3 linked regions of the Homo sapiens genome follow. The protein of the gene in region 3 interacts with the protein of the main gene of each other region in a biochemical or structural test. Each region holds a gene or a part of one and is shown on either strand. Other genes may lie near its edges. The genes, in order: TRPM4, SLC8A1 and S100A8.

Evidence for each region.
Region 1: the proteins of S100A8 (region 3) and TRPM4 interact in a biophysical measurement, tested with the Homo sapiens proteins (one large-scale study listed by IntAct).
Region 2: the proteins of S100A8 (region 3) and SLC8A1 interact in a biophysical measurement, tested with the Homo sapiens proteins (one large-scale study listed by IntAct).

The regions. Positions count from the first base shown.
Region 1 is NC_000019.10:49,195,721-49,199,372, reverse strand, and holds part of TRPM4 (transient receptor potential cation channel subfamily M member 4), read right to left. Parts: intron 2,934-3,652; coding exon 2,499-2,933; intron 1-2,498. UniProt on the Homo sapiens protein: Calcium-activated selective cation channel that mediates membrane depolarization. While it is activated by increase in intracellular Ca(2+), it is impermeable to it.
Region 2 is NC_000002.12:40,431,519-40,435,170, forward strand, and holds part of SLC8A1 (sodium/calcium exchanger 1 isoform A precursor), read right to left. Parts: intron 1-3,652. UniProt on the Homo sapiens protein: Mediates the exchange of one Ca(2+) ion against three to four Na(+) ions across the cell membrane, and thereby contributes to the regulation of cytoplasmic Ca(2+) levels and Ca(2+)-dependent cellular processes.
Region 3 is NC_000001.11:153,389,529-153,392,689, forward strand, and holds S100A8 (protein S100-A8), read right to left. Parts: upstream 1,513-3,161; intron 1,449-1,512; exon of another isoform or gene 1,329-1,448; intron 1,047-1,328; coding exon of another isoform or gene 1,008-1,046; coding exon 867-1,007; intron 716-866; coding exon 575-715; 3' UTR 504-574; downstream 1-503. UniProt on the Homo sapiens protein: S100A8 is a calcium- and zinc-binding protein which plays a prominent role in the regulation of inflammatory processes and immune response. It can induce neutrophil chemotaxis and adhesion.

The sequences.
Region 1 (3,652 bases), on a different chromosome or scaffold from region 3:
GCAGGAGAATGGCGTGAACCCGGGAGGCGGAGGTTGCAGTGAGCCGAGATCGCGCCACTGCACTCCAGCCTGGGCTACAGAGCGAGACTCCGTCTCAAAAACAAAAACAAAAACAAAAACCAAAAAAAAAACAAGGGGGCACAAGGACATATGGCCATTAAGCTTAGGAAAAGATGTCCAACCTATCTGGTAGTCAAGAGTGCATAAATTATAACAAGGAGAGGTCATGTTTACCCATTAAATTGGCAAATTTTTTTTCAGTTAAATTGAGAGCTACATTTTAGAGTGAAAGTATCAGGCATTGTCGAGCATGGCCTCAAGGGGGCACTCTCTTACCCTGATGGCAGGTGTGGAAATGAGTGAAGCTACTTAGAAGGAAATCTATCCATGTCAAAAATAAATGTACCCTTTGACCCATAAACTTTACATCTGGGATGTAAACTTTTATTATTTTGGAATAATAAAAAAACAGAAGGCTGAGCATAGTAGCTCACGCCTGTAATCCCAGCACTTTGAGAGGCCAAGGTGGGAGGATTGCTTGAGCCCTGGAGTTTGAGACCAGCCTGGGCAACAGAGTGAGACCCTGTCTCTATTTAAAACAAAAAAAGAAAGAAAGAGAGAACCTAAATGTCCATCTAGAGGGAACTGGCGAAACAAAGGATGATTCATCCATTCAATTCCGGAGATGATTAGACATTTCTCCCTTTTTTTTTTTTTTTTTTTTTTGACAGAGTTTTGCTCTTTTCACCCAGGCTAGAGTGCAGTGGCATGATCTTGGCTCACTGCAACCTCCGCCTCCCAGGTTCAGGCAATTATCCTGCCTCAGCCTCCCGAGTAGCTGGGATTACAGGCGCCTGCCACCATGCCCGGCTAATTTTTTGTATTTTTAGTAGAGATGGGGTTTCACCATGTTGGGCAGGCTGGTCTCAAACTCCTGATCTCAGGTGATCCACCCGCCTCGGCCTCCCAAAGTGCTGGGATTACAGGCATGAGCCACCACGCCAGGCCCGTTTCTCCCTTTTAAGCTGAGATCTTTCCATTTTTCACCTGGAAAGTGGTAGGCTTGATAAACTGTCCAAAATATCACTGGCAATCCTAGAGCATGGTAGCATATGGCCTTAGCCCTTTCATCTCAAAAGTCACTTTATACAAAATACAACAAATTACAAACAGAAGTATTAGTGTTCTGCAAAACTCTCATATCTTGCTCCCTGCTTGAATAAATTATTTATGTTGAATCACTTTGTAACACTGCTAACATAGCTTAGAGGAAGCCTGCCTCTCAGCGTGTCTACTGGGAAAAGCTTGAGTAGGGATCATCACTGTCATCACTGTCAACCATTCAGGATGTGTCAGGTCCCTTGTAAACAGTCACCAGGTTGTTGGCCAGGCACGGTGACCCACATCTGTAATCTCAGCACTTTCAGAGGCTAAGGCCAGTGGATCACTTGAGGCCAAGAGTTCAAGACCAGCCTGGTCAATATGGCAAAGCCCCATCTCTACAAAAAAAATACAAAAAAAATTTAGCTAGGTGTAGTGGTGCATGCCTGTAATCCCAGCTACTCACGAGGCTGAGGCAAGAGAATCGCTTGAACCCAGGAGGTGGAGGTTGCAGTGAGCCAAGATCGTACCACTGCACTCCAGTCTGGGCGACACAGCGGAACTCTGGCTCAAAAAAAAAAAAGAAAAGAAAGAAAACAAAAACAAACAAACAAACAAAAAACCAGTCACCAGGTTGTATCCACAAACTTTTCTGTTTGCTCTCCTCAAAAGGAGGAGTATCCTAATGCAGGATACTCCATAATGCAGGCAGGGCAAGGGTTAAACCCTTAGCTTGGAGGGATGGAAGGAAGCATAGAAGGAAGGAAGGAAGGAAGGAAGGAAGGAAGGAAGGAAGGAGGGAGGGAGGCAGAGGGGCAGAGGACAGAGGGAGAGAGAGAGAAAGAAAAGAGAAAAAGAAAAAGAAAAGAAAGGAAAAGAAAAGAGAAAGAAAGAAAAGAAAGAGAGAGAAAGAAAGAAAGAAAGAAAGAAAGAAAGAAAGAAAGAAAGAAAGAAAGAAAGAAAAAGAAAGAAAGAGAAAGAAAGAAAGAAAAAAAAAGGAAAGAAAGAAAAAGTCGGGGGCAGGAGGGCAAGGGGCCTGGGACCAACGAGCTATGTGGAGGAAGAGAAGGGAGGAGGTGAGGTTGGCACCCAGGTCGGGGCGCTCCCATAAATATCTGTTAAACTTCAGGCCTAGCAATAAATAGCAGCAGAGGCTGAGTGGCGGACAGTGGGGTTTTCTCCTGAATCCTGCCGTCCCTGAAGCCAGATCTCCAGGTGCCAGCCAATTACCCTGGGGCAATCGTCATGCCCGACTTTCCTAAGAGGGGTTCTCAATCAGCAGGGTTGGCTTGACCTGCTGCCCAGCTGCGGGGAAGCCGGGAGTGGAGACCCCGGGAGTGGGCAGGAAGGATGAGAGGTGGCCAGGGGCCAGGGTTCCAAGGCCCCGGGGCACTCACCGGCAGCCCACGCCCAGGAGGAAGCAGGTGAGAGCCACTAGGTCGCACTGGTTCCAGCTGTCGGCGAGGTAGAGGCGCAGGCGCTGGCTCAGTGAGGCATGGCCAGGCCCGGGGCCCCCGCTGGCGAGGCTGCCCCCGCCTCCGCTCAGGCCCTGGCGCAGTTCCTCGCACAGCAGCGTGAAAGCCCAGAAATAGAGCAGCAGCTCCAGGGAGCCGGGCGGCGCCGGCTGGAAATCCACGAGCAGCACCCGCGAGAAAAGCAGCAGGAACAGCAGGTAGCTGACCACGTTGCCCATGAAGATGGTCACCGGCGCGCCCCAGAAGTGGAACCAGCGGCGTAGGCACCGGCGCCCCCCGCAGCGGCCCCCGCAGCAACCCGGACGGCCCGACTGGCGCGGGACCCCCAGCGGCGTCTTCTCGGCTGGGTCCGCCGTCCTGTGGGGGAAGAGAAGAGAAGGGAGGAGGCCTCACTCTGACCTCTGAGTCCTGATCTCCACCATCATCGAGACTTTTGGCTTGGCACATCTCACCCTGCCTGACCCGAAACTCAGTCTGCCCAGAGCTAATTTCTTGGGTTTTGACTCTTGTATCTAACCTCTGACCTCTGAAATCTCCGGTCAAGAGGTGGATTGATCGCTTGAGCCGAGGAGTTGGAGACCAGCCTGGCCAACATGGCAAAACCTCATCTCTACAAAAAATATTTTAAAAATATACCCGGATCGGGCGCGGTGGCTCACGCCTGTAATCGCAGCACTTTGGGAGTTAAGGCGGGCAGATCACCTGAGGTAGGGAGTTCGAGACCAGCCTGGCCAACATGGTGAAACCCTGTCTCTACTAAAAATACAAAAATTAGCCGGGTCTGGTGGCGCATGCCAGTAGTCCCACATACTCGGGAGGCTGAGGCGGGAGAATCGCTTGAACCTGGGAGGCAGAGGTTGCAATGCACTGCAGCCTAGGCGACAGAGTGAGACTCTGTCTCAAAAATAATAATAATAATAATAATAAAATAAATAAAAATAAAAATTTAGCCAGTAGTAGGGGCAAGCACCTGTAGTCCCAGCTACTGGGGAGGCTGAAATGGGAGGATCACTTGAGTACAGGAGGCCCAGGCTGCAGTCAGCCATGAACATGCCACTGCACTCCAGCTTGGGCAA
Region 2 (3,652 bases), on a different chromosome or scaffold from region 3:
CTCTACTCAGACCTTACATCCCTTCTGCTTCCAGAACCTGGGATGGAGGTGAGGGGAAACTGAAGTAGAGGAAGGTCTGCTCCAAGTCAAGGTGACTGTCTCCCAGGCCTTGCAGGATGGACTAGTTATGACATCAGATAAAGCAGCAATAGGAAGAAGCCCTGAGTCAGAACATACCCTTATGTCCTGGAAAAAGTTAAAAGAGGAACTGGATTACAGGCTTTCATAGCTTCGGGCTGGCTGAGAGCCACCCCACATTCGCCTACACTCTCTGGCTCATGTTTGCTGCTGATGGCTTATACTGCAAACTGCACCAGTGCCCAGGAGAACACCGCTGCCTAGGACATTCTGGCAGACCCTGAGAGATCCCACCATAGACTAAAGCCCTTTATAGCTCATCACTACAGGGAGATAAGCTTCTTTGACATTTTTCCCATACTAAAGAAAATCAGAGGAGGGTTATAGCAGTAGAATTCAAAACTAAGTAAAAGGCTGAAAAATAGAGGTAGCATATTTTCAAAATATGCAAAAGTTCTGGTCAGTATGTCTGCTTGTTCAGTCTTTGAAAGGCTTTGAGATTTCTGCTTGAAACAAGGTGAAATTTAACCATCCTGCAAGAATGTTGGAAGATCTAGTTCCAACTCCCTTGTGTATCCATTTCATCCACAATATTTATGCATGCTTAATATGTATTTTAGAAAGACTTACTAGTCTGTCTTCTAGATCCTGAGAATTCACCAGTGATAAAACAAAGTCTCTGTCCTCACAGAGCTTATATTCTAATGGTGGAGGAAACAAACAAATATAAATATCAGAAGGTTAAAAACTCCTATGGTACATGTGTGTGCAGAACAATCTATAGAGGACAAGGAGAGTGTGAGATTGTGTGTGTGTGTGTGTGTGTGTATGTGTCAGTGTGTATACACGTGGGATGCATGATTTCATACTAGATGGTTAAGGAAGGCCTCTCTGATAAGGTAACACTTGAGCAAAGTCCTGAAGGACACGAAAGATCAAGTTTTGTGGATATCTGTAGGAAAAGAATTCCAGCAAGTGCAAAGGTCCTAATGGGAATCATGCTTGGCACAGTCTAAAAACACAGAAAACCAATGTAGCAAGAGGGTAATGGACCAAGGGGGCAGGGCTCAGGAGTGGGAATGGATCAGAGAACACTGAATTGCCATAAGGCATGGGCTTTGATGGGGTAGAAGATGAGAATCACTGGGAGGTTCTAATCAGAGGGTGATATGATCTGATTTTTCTTTTAGAAGGATCTCTCTGCTGGTTCAGTGCAGAAAAGACTGAAGGGGCAAGGGTGGAAACAAGGAGACCAGATTTTGCCTACTATATAAAATCTAATTTATAAGTGATCCCAATACTTGGCAGGTATACAAAATGGTACAGAAGATATTTAACATTTAAAATGGTGAAAGAAATGTCTTGGGGACCTGAAAGAATCAGAAAGGTGAAATATTTGTGATAAATAGTAGTACTGAACATAAACACTGAAGGGAGATTCAAACCTGTGTCTGTCTCCAAGACTGATATAACTAACCACTCCCTTCAAATTACTGCCAAATCGCATCATTCCATTCTTCACGTTTCAGCCAAAATGAAATTCCTAAAGTGCAGATCTGACACTCTTCACGTCCCTTAAAACTCTTCATTGGTTTCCCACTTCCCTGAGGACAAAGCTCAAACCCCTCAACAGGCTTTCTAAGACCTTTTATGATCTGGCATCTGAGCTCCAGAATATGGAAATTATTCCCATTCCCTGAACAAGGTAACAATTTCTTACATCCAAGTCTTTGCAGATTATTCTGTGTCCAAAACTATTTTGCTTTTTCCTTCTTAGAAGCAAGTTTCAAAAGAGCTGAACACCAAATTATAACCAATTTCCTGAGAGAATACTAGATTCCATTCTTAAACAGTCACAGATACCATGCTAAATTGTCTCTATACATATCAATTATATTTAATATTTCCATTAGCCAGCATTGCTGTTATAAAATGCCTAGTGTTGCTATTTCCATTATAGTCCATGAGAACAGCACCCCTGGAGATGTGCAATGCACAGTACCCTAACAATAATCCTAAATAGTAGGTACTATTAGCCCATTTGGAGGTTGGATAACTGAGGCTTAGATAGGTTAAGTACTTGCTGAAAGTCATACAGACAGTAAACTCCTCAACTAAGACCCAACCCCTGGTCTTTTTCCAAGACTGATATAACTAACTGCTCCATTATATCATCCCTGATAGTGTGTGAAGTAATCTTTGAGAACTATTGGGGTTGGCTTGGACTAGCCCGTTGGAAAGCCTCTTGGCTTCCATGCAGGGTCAGGAGGGCCTAGTTAGCAAAAGTCTTGTGGAAGGTTTCCAATAGCCTGGCTTTTATCTTATGCATTAGACTCAAACAGACAAGCATCAATAACTGTGATGTAACATGAGGGCTAGCATGTTCCTAGAGACAGCTGCCCTTCAATCTGGTCTTTTAGCAATTGCCTGGCAACCTCTTCCTGCATGCACTGTCAGGGCAATCTCCTGGGCCAGCCAAGAAAAAGCCCTGCCCTTTATCCCTTCCCTAGCCCACATCCCACAATATGTTCTTAGCCAAAAGGTCACCAGATGTCTAAAGGTAGACAGGTCAGTAAAAATCCATCATCATTATCAGAGAAAAAGGAAGGGGGCTTCCGGTGTTAACTAAAAACATTACAATTATATTCAAAAGAGAGCAGTATTATAATTTGTGAACAGTGGACACAGCACACTGATGTAGCTTATTGGCAATGAAGCAATTGGAAAGAACTCTCTGGACTTAAATTTCTTTTTCTTATTAAATTAATACCAAATTCAAATGCCCACGAAGATGTGGAATAGATGTTATCTAAATGTGAGTTCCTTCTTCATCCTTTTGTTTTCTTTCTTTCGGGGTCTTTCCTCTATCATCAGATTCAAAGTAGTTCTACTAAACTCTCCCCATTTTCCCTCAAATATACATTTCCATACAAATTAAGCAGAAAGATAAGAATAGAGACTGTGGATATGTTGATTTGCTGCCTGGCTTTCTTATATTCTGCCTTAATTTACCAATACAAAGTATAGGCTGATTTTTATGGTGGATTCAGATCAACTCGTACAACTGTGAGCAGTACTAACTTAAAATATCCATTACATCATGAAATGAGACTTTAGCACAGTATCAAGAATACCCAAATTATCTTCTGATCACTATTTATTTTAAAACAACACACAACCCATCACCCACAGATTACAGACCCAAATGACACTGACAAAGGATGGTAAAAAGATATCCAGCTGTGAGTAGTCCAGCCAGTTGTGTCGGAGGAAGAGGTCACAGCTACAAGGAATAGAAACCCACATCTACAAGAGATAGATCCAACTGCTTTGTAAAGGAAGAGGGAGAGCTTTTGGAGCAGAGGCCTGAAGAGTGGTTGGCAGCACGGTGACCATTCCCTGCTGGAAGCTATAGCCAGTTTTGACTACCAAGGAGGACGTGACTCAGAGCAAAGGCATATGCTGGCATTCCTAACAGCCCAATATATTGGACAGTCATCCTAATGGCATCCTCTTGATTGGCAGCTGGGGTTATTCCAAGGAACTCCTTGATGGCCTTCATCAGTACTTGGAA
Region 3 (3,161 bases):
CATTGTCCACCTACATCACACCACACACACAATCAGCCTCTCCCCCCTTCCCTCTCTTGCTCTCTTTCTGTCTGTCTCTCTCTCACACACACACACACAGACACACACACACACACCCACACACTTCTATGTAGCTATCACTCTAATTTCCCAAGAGCCACATCTAAGACATTTAGCTGGAAGCTAAAATTTAGCTTAGAGAACAGTATCAGTTGTTCTTATACTACCACCCTGTTCCCAAATCCCCGACCCATTTCAGAACCACTAGTAAAATCATCAGCTATAGTGTCATGGACTTTTTGGAATCCTTAAGCCTCAAATCCAATGGCTCAAGATGGAGGGGCTGGAAGGGAATGTGGGGCAGAGGCCAGGTGAGGGGTAAAGCAGGAAAGGCTTGTGAGAGGTAGGGTGGGATAACATAGATTTCTTTTTCTTCCTTTGGGTTTTCCAACCCTCCCTCCACACCGAGGAACCTCATTCCACAAAAGCATAAGAGAGAGGCATGAGGTATTGATGACTTTATTATTCTGCAGGTACATGTCCAGGGGCCCAGCCTCTGGGCCCAGTAACTCAGCTACTCTTTGTGGCTTTCTTCATGGCTTTTTTTGTGGGCTGCCACGCCCATCTTTATCACCAGAATGAGGAACTCCTGGAAGTTAACTGCACCATCAGTGTTGATATCCAACTCTTTGAACCAGACGTCTGCACCCTTTTTCTGTCAAGATTGAGGAGGAAGAAGCCAGAGTTTAAAGATCTCAGAGAGAGCCGAGGCATAGCCATCTATGAAGGGTGGCAGGGAGGACCGCTGGCCCAGGGCAGCCCCAGGACCAGGCAGAGAGCCCCCGCCACACCCAGCCCCTCCTCACCCTGATATACTGAGGACACTCGGTCTCTAGCAATTTCTTCAGGTCATCCCTGTAGACGGCATGGAAATTCCCCTTTATCAGGGAGTACTTGTGGTAGACGTCGATGATAGAGTTCAAGGCTTTCTCCAGCTCGGTCAACATGATGCCCACGGACTTGCCCCACCTGAAAAACAGAACCTTCTGGGGAATCCCATGGCAGGGAATTTGCATCTGGCCAGGGCAGTACGCAGAGGATTCATGCCCCAAGCGATGGCCTTGTCCTGGCCTGCACTCTCCAAATAACCAAACCAGCAGATGGCTATGGCTCTGGTGGGAAGGGTGGGATGATAGGGATACACGTGTGGGAAGGGGAAGGGTCCATTCACACAGAGACATGTGCACACACACGGGGCCCGTAGACTTTCCTTACCACCCCACCCTCTGCTCAAGAAAAGTCCAGCCTAGGAGACAATGTGCCCTTACCCACTGGAAGGTGCTGGAGGATACTCTCCTTCCTTATCCCTGCCTCACTCCCCACCTCCAGGAGTATCTTTGCTCCAGACCTCCCTGAGCTTTCTCTCTCCTCTCTCAGGAAGGCTGCTCCACTTCCCTGACCCTCCCCAAGAGAAGCCCAAAGTGCGGGGCCAACCCAGACAGTCCCACTTACCAGGTCTTCTGAAAGACAGCTGACAAGAGACATGCAGGGCTGAGAGGCAGCTCCTTTTTATAGCGGTTAGGCTTGGCCAGCTGCCCACAGCTTCAGGCCATCAGAGACAGCTTCTCCCTGCCAGAGTTGCTACAGTCTCTGGTTTCTCAACCAGGTGAATGTGGCAATCACTGTGCAGAATGAAAATTTTGGGTGGGGAGGTAGGAGAAGCGGAAAGAGGAAGGCATTTGCTGGGCAATAGTGCCCAGAAGGAAAAAGCAGGTAGGGGGGCTCTTTTTCTGGGCTGCTGGCATCCACTTGCTTGATCCAGCCAGATTCCCACTCCCATGCCCTCTCCACTATTGCGATTGCTAATCCCCTGCATTGGTGGTCAGGCCATACATCCCTGAAACTGAATTGAAGTTGAATGCATCATTTTGAGTGCATGCACTCAGTGAGAACATTCCTCCATGGCTTCTGTCAGAGTTTCAAAGGGTCCAAAGACCGCAAAAGGGTTGAGAACACGTGTCCTGGCTGATGGCTTTTAGTCATGAGAACTATTGTTCTCATTACTAAAAACTAAAACTATCGTTGTTGTTCTTTTGGGTGGGTGCTTTGTGGGGAAATGTGTTGTTGCCAAGGGCTATATCCATTCCTACCCTGCTGCCCACACTCCTCCACAGCTTTCCTGTTCTGTGAAGCTGGGGATGGACCATGCCCTGGGAGATGGAGGCTGCTTGGGGTCCCTCGGCACTTCACAAGGGCCTGAGCCATTGCATAAACACAGCAGGGAGCCTTTCACCCTCTCTTGGTTAATTATTGTGTCTGGGACCCCAGGATCACTGGCTGAAGAGAGGAAGCTAACTCTGAGGTAGTGGAGGGGAAGAGTTCTTTGGAGAAGCCAGACGCGCTTCATGCCTAAGAGGAGAAGAGGAGGTGGCCAATTCCCCAGGATTTCAGGAGGAACAAATCCTCTCCCCACCACTAACAAAATGCTACTCAGATTAACTGGCTTCCAACCTTGAAGACTGTGGTGTGTTTCTGTTGTTACAAAGAAAATATTTGTAAAACAAATATCTGATAAGGGATTAATATCCAGAATATAAAAGAATCCCTACAACTCAACAACAAAAAACAAACAAACCAATCAAAAATTGGGGAAAAGACTCAAATAGACACTTCTCCGAAGAAGATATACAAATGGTCAATAAGCATATGAAAATTACTAATCTTTAGGAAAACATGAAGCAAAACGACAATGAGATACCACCTGACACCTACAAGGATGACTACTACTTCTTTTAAAACCCAGAAAACAAGTGTTGGTGAGGGCATAGAGAATTGGAAGCCTAATGCACTGTTAGTGGGAATGTAAAATAGTGCAGCTGTTATGGAAAACGGCAAGTTTGTTCCTCAAATAAATAAACACAGAATTACCATATGATCCATCATTCTGCTCCTGGGTATATATGCAAAAGAATTGAATGCAGGGATTCAAACAGATGTTTGTACATTCATGTTCATAGCAGCATTATTTACAAGAGCCAAAAGGTGGAAGCAACCCAAGTGTCCCTCAACACATGAATGGATGAAGAAAATGTTTTGTGGGGACATGTGTTGTTGCCGAGGGCTAAATCCATTCCTACCCTGCTGCCCACACTCCTCCACAG